Linked DNA regions of Homo sapiens: region 2 is linked to region 1. The links come from fine-mapping of genetic effects on gene expression. Tissue or cell type: whole blood. Region 1 holds a variant in brackets; the other region holds the start of a gene. All regions are shown on one strand. Distances are from middle to middle. Region 1 overlaps LOC124902370 (a long non-coding RNA gene). Region 2 holds the start of LINC02656 (long intergenic non-protein coding RNA 2656).

Region 1 (5,382 bases):
AGTGATTGTGTCAAATAAGAATGGTTGAGAGGAATAGCTTGATACTGTTCTTCCACACATACATCATTCACTCCTTCTCTTCATGACTCTTCCCTGAAGGTCTTCCTTGTGCCGGAACGGTGCGACCTTTGCTGTTACTGTAACCATCCAGTGGGTTCACCTTGCCCGCCGCCTAGAGGGAGCCGATTTATCAAGACGGGGGAATTGCAATAGAGAACAAATAATTTACACAGAGCCAGCTGTGCAGGAAGCTGGAGTCTTTTTTTTTTTTTTTTTTTTTTTTGAGACGGAGTCTCGCTCTGTCTCCCAGGCTGGAGTGCAGTGGCTGTGATCTCGGCTCACTGCAAGCTCCGCCTCCCGGGTTCACGCCATTCTCCCGCTTCAGCCTCCCGAGTAGCTGGGACTACAGGTGCCTGCCACCGTGCCCGGCTAATTTTTTGTACTTTTAGTAGAGACGGGGTTTTCACCGTGTTAGCCAGGATGGTCTCGATCTCCTGACCTCGTGATCCGCTCACCTCGGTCTCCCAAAGGGCTGGGATTACAGGCGTGAACCAGCGCGCCCGGCCGGCTGGAGTTTTATTATTACTCAAGCCAGTCTCCCTGAGCATTCAGGGATCAGAGTTTTTAAGAATAATTTGGTAAATGGGGAGAAGGCTCCTGAGGAGGTACCAGCTGATCCATCAAGTGCAGGATCTGCAAAATATCTCAAGCCCTGATCTTAGGAGCAGCTTAGGGAGGGTCAGAATCCCGTAGCCTCCAATTGCGTGACTCCTAAACCATAATTTCTAATCTTGTGGCTAATTTCTTAGCTCTACAAAGGCAGTCTAGTCCCCAGGTAAGAAGGAGGTTTGTTTTGGGAAAGGGGTATTATCGTCTTTGTTTTAAACTATAAACTAAGTCCCTCCCAAAGTTAGCTCAGCCCAGGAATAAACAAGGACAGCTTGGAGGTTAGAAGCAAGGCGGAGTCAGGTCAGATCTCTTTCACTGTCTCAGTCATTATTTTGCAATGGCGGTTTCATTACCAACATTGCCGAGGTCCTGACCGTCAGTGCCCTGTACTGAGTATATTTTTCAGAGGCCAACCTTTTCCTTCTCTGCTCCCACTCTATTTAGCTCTCGTGACGGGTCTGAATACACCATTGTAGCGTTCCCTCAGTTTTCCCCATCAGTAAGATGCAGGAAGACTTAATGGAATCCTCAAGCAGTGAGACTTCCTAGCTCCAGGGACTGAAAAACATTAGTAGATATTAAAACTTCCCAATAGCAAATGGCGATCGATAATGATATCATCTCTGTCCTGGGAACTTAGATGCTACTATTATCATAGTTAAATAGATAATAAATGTAAAAAGTCACCCCTAAGTACTAGACTCCAGCATTTAATTCCCCTTGCCATTTGCTAGATGTTAGAAACTTGGCTAAAACTAAGGCTTTTTTTGCCCTCAAGAGTTGATGTTTTTACTAAAACAAGTTTTATTGAGATACAATACAATTCACACAGCGTAACATTTACCCTTTTAAAGTATACAATTCAATGCTTTTCATATATTTACAGAGTTGTGTAACTGCCATCACAGTCATATTTCAGGACATTTTCATTACTCCGCAAAGAGCCTCCGTACCCATAGAGGTCACTCCCCAGTCTCCCCATGTCAAGCCCTAGGCAAACACTAATTTACTTTCTGTCTCGATAGATTTGCTTCCATTAGATATTTCACATGAGTGGAATCATATACTACATGGTCTTTTGTGACTTGCTTCTTCCAGTTAGCTTAATGTTCTTGAGGCTGACTTATATTATACCATGTAAGAGCACCTGATTCCTTTTTATTGCTGAGTAGCGTTCTGTTGTGTGAGTATGGCACTACATTTGTCTATCCATTCATCAGTTGATGCACATTTGGGTTGTTCATACCTTTTGGCTATTATGAATCATGTTGCAGCGAAGCTTGGTGCACATGTCTTTGACTAGGACATATGTTTTCACTTCTCTTGGATATATAACTAGGAGAGGAACTGCTAGGTCATATGGTAACCATGTGTTGAAAATTTAACTGCCAAACTATTTTTCAAATGCATTGCAACATTTTAC[A/C]TTCCCAGCAGCACTGTATGTTGGTTAATTTCCCCACATCCTTGTCAACACATGCGATTGCCCATCTTTTTTACTGTAGGCATCCTAGGGAGCGAAGTGCCAACTCATTGTGGTTTTATTTGCATTTCTCTAATGACTAACGATGTTGACCATCTTTGTATGTGTTTAATGGCCATTTGCACATGTTCTTTAGAAAAATGTCTATTCAAATTATTTGCCTGTTTTTTTTTTGAGTCTCACTTTGTTGCCCAGGCTGGAGTGCAGTGGCATGATCTCAGCCCACTGCAAGTTCTGCCTCCCGGGTTCAAGTGATTCTCTTGCGTCAGCCTCCCGAGTAGCTGGGATTACAGGCATGCGCCAACTTGCCCATCTAATTTTGTATTTGTAGTAGAGACGGGGTTTCACCTGTTGGCCAAGCTGGTCTCGAACTCCTGACATCAGGCAATCCGCCCTCTTGGCCCCTCAAAGTGCTGAGATTACAGGCATGAGCCACCATGTCCGACCCCTTTGCCTATTTTTAAATTGAATTTTTGTCATCATATTGTAGAGTTGTAATATTTATATATTTTGTATACTATTGCATTATCAGATATATTATTTGCAAATATTTTCTCCTAGTCTCTTGGCTGTCTCTTCACTTCCTTGATAGTGTTGTTTAAAGTGCAGACATTGTTTATTTTGATGAAAGTCCAATTTATCAACTTTTACCTCTAGCTTCCATATTTGTGATATTGTATCTAAGATACCCTTGCTGGCTGGGTGCGGTGGCTCATGCCTGTAATCCCAGCACTTTGGGAGGCCAAGGTGGGTGGATCACCTGAGGTCAGAGTTTGAGACCAGCCTGGCCAATGTGGTGAACCCTCATCTCTACTAAAAGTACAAAAAATTAGGCGGGCACAGCAGTGGGCACCTGTAATCCCAGCTACTCGGGAGGCTGAGGCAGGAGAATCGCTTGAACCTGGGAGATGGAGGTTGTAGTGAGCTGAGATCGTGCCATTGCACTCCAGCCTAGGCAACAAGCACGAGACTCCGTCTAAAAAAAAAAGAAAGAAAGAAATCCTTGCCTAACCCAAAGTCAAGATTTATCCCTATGTTTTATTTTAAGAATCTCATAAGTGTTACTTCTTACATTTAAGTCTATCATCCATTTTGAGCTGCTTTTTGTGCATGGTGTGAGATTGGGGTTCAAGCTCATTCTTTTGAATGTAGATATTCAGCTGTTCTTAGCATCATTTGTTGAAAATCCTATTTTTTCTCCTTTGCATTCCCTTGGCACCTTTGTTGAAAGTCGATGACCATAAATGTATAGGCTTATTTATGTATGAACTCTGTATTCTATTCCATTGATTTTCATGTCTAGTCTTACGCCAGTACCACAATATCTTGATTGCTGTCACTGTGTAGTAAGTTTTGAAATTAAGAAGTGTAAGTCTTCCAACTTAGTTCTTCAAAAGATGATATTTATTTTAAAATAAAGGGCTGTTTGTCATATAATTTGACTGTGTGTTGGAAAATACTTTTAGATTTTGAGAGGCTTGCATAAGTTAGTCAATATTCTTTCATGGAGGAAAAAAGCTTTCTGTGCCCAGCTGTTCAACAACAGGAAAATTCTATAATATGTTTTCTCATTCATTTGGAGTGGGCATGTGAGTCAGCCTTTGGTTGGTTGTTGAAACCTTCTTGAAGAGCCTTATTTCAGAAGTTTGATTTGCTCAATGGACGTTTACCCATCATTTCCTCCATGTCATGGCCTGTGCTAGATGCTGGGAGAGAGAGAGAAAGGAGACACAATTGCTTTCAGGATGCTCACAGTAGAGCAAGGAACGAGTCACAATTTTAGAGCTGAATTTTTCTTTTTCTTTTTTTTTCTCTTTTCTTTTTTGAGACACAGTCTGGCTCTGTCACCCAGGCTGGAGTGCAGTGGCGCAATTACAGCTCACTGCAACCTCTACCTCCTGGGCTCAAGCCATCCTCCCACCTTAGCTTCCCGAGTATCTAGGACCACAGGTGCAAGCCACCACACCCAACTAATTAAAAAAAAATTTTATAGAGTTTTCTGTAGGATTTCACCATGTTGCCCAGGCTGGTCTCGAACTTCTGAACTCAAGCAATCTGCCTGCCTCAGCCTCCCAAAGTGCTGAGATTACAGGCATATCAATACAATGATACAATGATACAATGGCTGAGCCACTGCACCCAGCCATTAAAGCTGAATTTCTGGAGACTGTCAATGTAAACTCCCTTGCTTTGTAGATATGAAAAGGCAGCCTAGAGAATGACAGCTTTGGGTGAAAGCCATAGTGTCCCCACAAGTAAATAATGGTGAGCAGAGTGCCTTGCATATAGTAGGTCCTCGATAAATATTCACCGTGATTTACTTACTAGATGGTATGTAAGCTAGTGGTTGGAATATTTAAACATAAACACACAGACTCAGAATGTTGAGAATGTGCTCAATTCCTTTCTGCAGTGAGTTTTAAATTTAAAGATTCCTTTGTGCTCCCTGCCTAGCCTGGAGCTATTGCTGCGCTCTTGGCAACATCCACCCGGCTGAGCCCAGCAGCCCTTGCCCTGGAGACAGAAATTGCCCCCTTTTTTTTTTCCTTCTTTTTATTTTTTTTTGGCACAGGGTGTGTTGAGACAGGTTGAATAGCCACCCTGGAGTTTTGCCAGAGCCACAAGATGAGGAAGGTCAAGAGGCAGAAGAGAGCAGGGTGAGGAGATGGGGGTGGAGGAGAGGAAGTTTGACATCATGTGGCTTGAATGGCTCAAAATGCTGAAATGCCAGCATTAGTTCAAGCAATTTAGACTTTCAGGAAGCCTGGCCTTTCCCCCTAGAGTCGTTTGTTTAGTCCTGTCTGGTGGGCTTGGCTGGCGGATTCCACAAACTCATGATGAAAAAGTTCTCCAGGCAGAACAGAGATGTGGCCTCCATTCCTACAGGGTAGACAATCAATTCCAAGGGCCCAGCATCTCCTATGAACCCAAGGTCACTCAGATCAAGTCCCCAGGGTGGCAAATGTCTGGCATCAATCGGGGGTTGGGGGGGCGGACACTGAGTTTAGTTCAAGGAAGTATTGCCAGATTTTGTGTGTTCTTCTGTGCCACTGATGGATTTGAATGAATTTGAACATGCTGCACGGTTTGACGCACGTCAGAACTGAAAGAGAAGGCAGAGTCCAGGTGAAGAGCAGGAACGTGGCCAGATTGCCCAAGTTAGAATGGGGCTCTGTTACTAGCCAGCTGGAGATGTCGGCTGCTGACTTGGTGTTCTCTACCTGAGTTTCCTC
Region 2 (5,355 bases), 48 kb before region 1:
TTTGTTTATTTGTTTGTCTTGTTTTGAGACAGGGTCTCGCTGTCACCCAGGCTGGAATGCAGTAGTGCAATCATGGCTCACTGCAGCCTTGACCTCCTGGGCCCAAGTGATCCTCCCACCTCAGCCTTCCAAGTAGCTGGGACTACAGGCATGCAACACCATGCCCAGCTAATTTTTAAAATTTTGTTGTAGAGACAGGATATTGCTATACTGCCCAGTCTTGTTTCCAACTCCTGGCCTCAAGTGATCCTCCCCCGTCAGCCTCCCAAGGCATAAGTTACTGGTGTGAGCCGCTGCGCTGGCCTATATTATATGTTTTTGCTGCTTCTGTTGGGGAAGAATTTGGTGTTTTATCTGAGAGAGATGACAGGAACCTTGGCCAGATGCCACCCCCAGAAACTCAGTGTCCTTCTGTTGGTAGCTGCTTGCCTCTTTGCTGCCCCTATCAGAGCAGAGTTGTTCATTTGCTTCTCTGAGCACATCTTGTGTGGAGTCTCGGGCCCCAGACAGCAGGGCTGCAAATGACACACTCAGCTGCAAGGCAGCAGTGATCTGTGGACGAGATTCAAATCCAGAGAAAAAAACGGAAGCCTCGAACTGCATCTGAAAACCAGCGAGAAAGAAGCAAATTCCTGTGAAATGGCACAGGCATCATTTCAGCGTTGACTCATTCTGCTCAAACCTGTCACCGCTCACACGGGAGTGGTCGTTGGAATAAGGGACTTCTCCTCAGGTGAATGACAAAGAAACACAGATTTGGATTTGCCCAGGTGTCTGGAGAGGAGGCTGCCCCTGGATGCCGTGCCCCACTGTGCAGAAAGGGGATGCCCGGGGCATTGTCACCGCAGCGAGTCTGCACCTACCATCCTCTGGCCCCTTTCTGCCACCTCTGCAGCATCTCCAATTAAATTTTAAAAAAGTAAAAGTGGGGACAAGAATCATCTGCCTGCCTGTGTTTGGCCCTCCTTCCAAGTTTTTGTGTTCTGTTTGAAATCAAACTTATGCTTTCTTCCAAAATGAATGACAGAGAAAAAAGAAAAAGCCACCCAGGCTTGAAAAGTGGTAGCTTCTTGCCGCCGACTTCCTGCCGGTGCCAAGTCAGAGGGAGCTCTGCGTGTCCTCAGTTCACCCTCGCCAGGCCACACCGCATGCAAATAAGAAGCTGTTTCAGTGTGTGCCCATCTGAGACGCTGACATAAAAAAGGAAGAAAGAAAGGAAAAAAACCACCGTCACCACCAACAAAAAAACCCAAAACTGATTAATTCTCGTAGATTGCAGCAGAGCAGGGGGCCTGGTGGTGACACATCCTGTTTTGCTGTTCAAGTTGTCATCCCCCAAGCCAATAAGCTCCCTCATGAACGGCACCAGTTATGAAGGGTGACAAAGAATTCAAAACACTCACAGGACAATTTTCCTAACCCTTGGTCTCTCGGAATGCTATTTTTTAGGCTAATTTGTTTTGATGAGAAAACTATGCCTGCTAGGCCTATTTTTAAGCCAGATTTGAAGTCAACGCAGTTGGTATTTGATCTTGCAAGAACGACAGAGGTGTCAGCAGCAGCTCTGCCATTTAAGAGCTGTAGCCTGGTGGGACACCGTCCTGCAACCAGGGCCCTAGCACAAGAAGTATCTCTGTTGTTATTTGCTTCTCTTCTTTGAGATCCATACTTGATTTGAAAAATCACCACTTGAGCGGCACCTGGTGATTACGTAACCATTCAACTCTGTGTTTTATCCTAGGGCTAGGTAAGAAATTGAAAATCCAGCCTGAAATAATTAGTTTAGCTGCAGACAGGGTGTATTAAACAGACTCAATTTAATAGAGCTAGAACCATAAGATGAATGTATTTATCTTCAATCAAAGATGACATGTTGGACAGATTCCTTCATTCATCACTTTTCTGTTATGTTTAGCCCTAAGGGAAGTCTTTTTTAGATACGTAAGATGCACCTTCAGGGTTAAAGCATCTAGTCCAGTCTGAATAAAACATCAAAAGCACCTACAATCCCAAGCTCCTTCAAGAACTTTGCAGGCAGTCTTCGGGTGAGTTTGGTAAGACTATTAATCGGAGTAATGAAATAAAGTATTATCACATCTATTTATTTTTCTCATTTTCTTTTAACTTCTCTTTTGTGTATGTTCTAAAATACACATAATTTTCAGTTCATAGGGCATTTTCCCCTTGTAAGTAAATATGAATATATTTCAGAGTGAGCTCAAAGTTTTACGTTAGATTTAGGTAGGCATTTTTTTTTTTTTTTTTTAAGATGGAGTTTCACTCTGTCACCCAGGCTGGAGTGCGGTGGCTCGATCTTGGCTCACTGCAACCTCCGCCTCCTGGGTTCAAGCGATTCTCCTGCCTCAGCCTCCTGAGTAGCTGGGATTACGGGCACCCACCACCACACCCGGCTTATTTTTGAATTTTTAGTAGAGCTAGGGTTTCACCATGTTGGCCAGGCTGGTCTAGAGCCCCTGACCTCAGGTGATCCACCCACCTCGGCTTCCCAAAGTGCTGGGATTACAGGCGTGAGCCGACAAGGTAGGCAAAAGTTAAAAACAAAAAAACAAAAAAACAAAAAAAAATTTGGAATAGTCTGTAACAGAGGAGGGCTTGAAGAGAAGTGAGGTGATTTGCAGAAGCATCAGCCAGGAGGCATTCCTCCAGGAGAAAAATTTTTACTTAAAGGAGAGAGCTTAGTGATGGAGAAGGAAAAGATCTCGACAGACATTCAAGATTAGAATCATAAGTTGGCCATTGATTGGGTGTGGCTCTGGGAAGTGGAGGTGCTGTGGGCAGGGGCTGGCTTGGGCAATGAGAAAATGGTGTTGCTTATGTGCCCACTCTGTGCTGGGACTCAGCTGTGAGTGCCTCCAAATTCACCACATTTATCAAACCTCAGTGCTCTGAGACAGCATATGATGGCCTAGCAGGATGTCCATTCTTTTCCTGGAACCACCCATCCAGTTATCTCCTTGAGTCGCCTGGGTGGTGAAAAGTGGTCTCATGCACAATGGATGCGGTGTGATCCCCTTGCTATGTCACGCATGGCGTCTGCCCTCTTCCCTGGCACCTGTGCCACTCCAGGTTATGCCTGTGCTGCTGCCCATTCTACGCCCACCTGGAAAGCCTGAAACCTTCTCGTGCCTTCTACTGCAGCTGGGGAGCTTCTTCCACGTCTCATAGCCAGCTTCTCCAGAGGGAACTCCCAGAGCTGACTGTACTTTCCTACCTCAGCCTCTTCTTCCTGGGATGGTGTCAAAATATGAACAGATACAGCTTCATGCTTTCAGGAAACCACCTTCTCTTCCATCTTCTCCTTTGGCCTGCTCAGACAGCCAGACTTCTTAAACATATTTTTCCTACAGGCTCATGCAAATTAAGGGATGTGGCTGAGCATCTCCTTCAGTGCCCTCAAACAGGTCATGAATGTTGCAAAGCCCAGAATCGTGCTAACCTGGTAGAAGGCTGGTTTAGCCAGAACACACAGAGAGGACCTTCTCATGATGGTGTGGCTGAATTCCACATGTCACTAACAGTATCTTGCCCTGACCCGACTCCAAGTACTGATCCCCAAGGAAGGCATAATAGAGAGCCCATCTTGGGGAGGGATGATGACTTCATGTGCAAACAAGTCAAATTCAGGATGTGTGTTGTGGGCAGAGATGGCAATGCCCAGTCATCTGTTAGGTATACAGGTCCGCTGTACAGGAGAAAAATCAGAACAGAATTTCTATTTGTAGTGTTTCTTTTAGAGACTAGGGAATTGAAACCACAGGTGAATAAGAATGTACAAGGAACCAGGCCTTCTTGAAGAAATAGCTGAACCAGATTGGTGTCAGGAGCTGTACAAGGGGATCCAAGAATGTCTTGTCATACAAGCCGGACAGCTATTAAAGACAACTGAGGTCATGGCAAAAGGGCCCAGGCTTCTACTGGCCAACAATGAGACAATTTGAGCATCCCAAAGAATAATGACTTTAGTGGACTGAAACACATCAACATGTATACATCCATGAATTCATAATACTCAAAACGGTAAAACCAAACTCATTTGTTACCTTTGGAGGAGTCTGTCACCTCTGATTATTCTGAAAACTGGTAAATAGAAGGGGAAAATTCAAGCATTTATTCTGCTTTTCTTGTATAAACTGTACCTCACAGTTACGGAAGAGCTGATAAGGGAAATGTCTTCTTTATTGAAAAATTCAGCTGATACATTTGGAAGGAATGAGAGAATTACAGTACCACCATTAGGTGACAATGAGGGTCTGGTTTTTTATTTTTCTTTTGCTGAGTGCTGGGAACATAGTGATAACAAAAAAAGCCATAGTGTTCTGGCCCTTCTGGAGTTTTGATTCTAGCACATTAACCAAATAATCCCAGAGCAAAAATAAAATGTCAACTATGGTAAGTGTAGAGAAGGGAAAATACACAGAACTTTTAACAGCTTAGATCCGAGGAAGCTGACCAGCCTGCAAAAAGGGACAGCTTCCCTAGGGAAGTGACTTTGCAGCTGTGATGATGGATGACTAAGAGTTAACCAAGGAATGGGAGGAGGGAGGAGGAGACAGAGAAGGCTTTCCAAGCAGAAGCCAGAGCATGTGCAAAGATCCTGTGGCAAGAAGGAGCCTGGTGCAGGGGAGGAACGAAGAGACATGCAAGCTGGCTGGAGTGCAGAGAGGGAGACAGGCAGGCAGGCAGGTGGTTGGATGGGGAGGCAAGGATCAGATCCTGAGTCCCTTGGAGAAGCAGGAAGGCATCATGATGACTAATGTCAGAGGCAGGGGAGGACAGGTAGGGATAGACAGGGAAGCAGTGCTGGGAAGATGCTAAAATGCTGCAGTTTGTGCTTGGAAAGATCATGGCCTGGTTCTTCCATTGTCATGATGGGTTGTTCTCTTTCTTATTGTTTTTCTAATTTGTCTTGACTAATGGAGAAGATCAGGAGCTCAAAAATAGAGGTTGTTTACAGCACTCAGTTTGGCTGCTATAGGTTAATGGGCTTAGACTCTTTAAGGGGATTAGGCTTTTGCTCAGAGACCAGTGGAGTATTCTAGCCAGGCTGTCTTGTGAAGGTGGTATGTTAAGAACTAGGTTTGTCTGATTTCTCAAATTAAAATGTGGTACATCAAATTAAATTTGAATTTCAGATAAATAACAACTAATTTCAGATGTGTCAGATAAAGAATGGATATGGCTCTAGTACAATATGGGATAATGAATATTTTCAGATAAATAGATGCCCTGTATTCTGTGTAGCAAGCATAACTAGAGAATCAATGTTAGTGCTCAAACTAAGAAGACTTTTGAGAAATTATCAGAGGTAAATACAAATATACATTTCCATCCATC

The links.
Region 2: it holds the start of LINC02656, and the variant in region 1 is fine-mapped to the expression of LINC02656 in whole blood (TOPMed, PIP 0.97).

What each region holds. Positions count from the first base shown.
Region 1 is chr10:6,394,798-6,400,179 of GRCh38, forward strand. It overlaps LOC124902370 (a long non-coding RNA gene), which reads right to left. Exons shown (of 2, transcript XR_007062044.1): 2 at 3,532-5,382. It also overlaps a transcript of PRKCQ not described here. Among named protein-coding and RNA genes, the nearest start is that of LINC02656, 47 kb to the left of the region's middle. The variant A/C (reference allele first, on the strand shown) is at 2,093.
Region 2 is chr10:6,347,056-6,352,410 of GRCh38, forward strand. LINC02656 (long intergenic non-protein coding RNA 2656) reads left to right here and starts at 3,261. Exons shown (of 1, transcript NR_148966.1): 1 at 3,261-5,355. RefSeq lists a cis regulatory region at 955-1,455.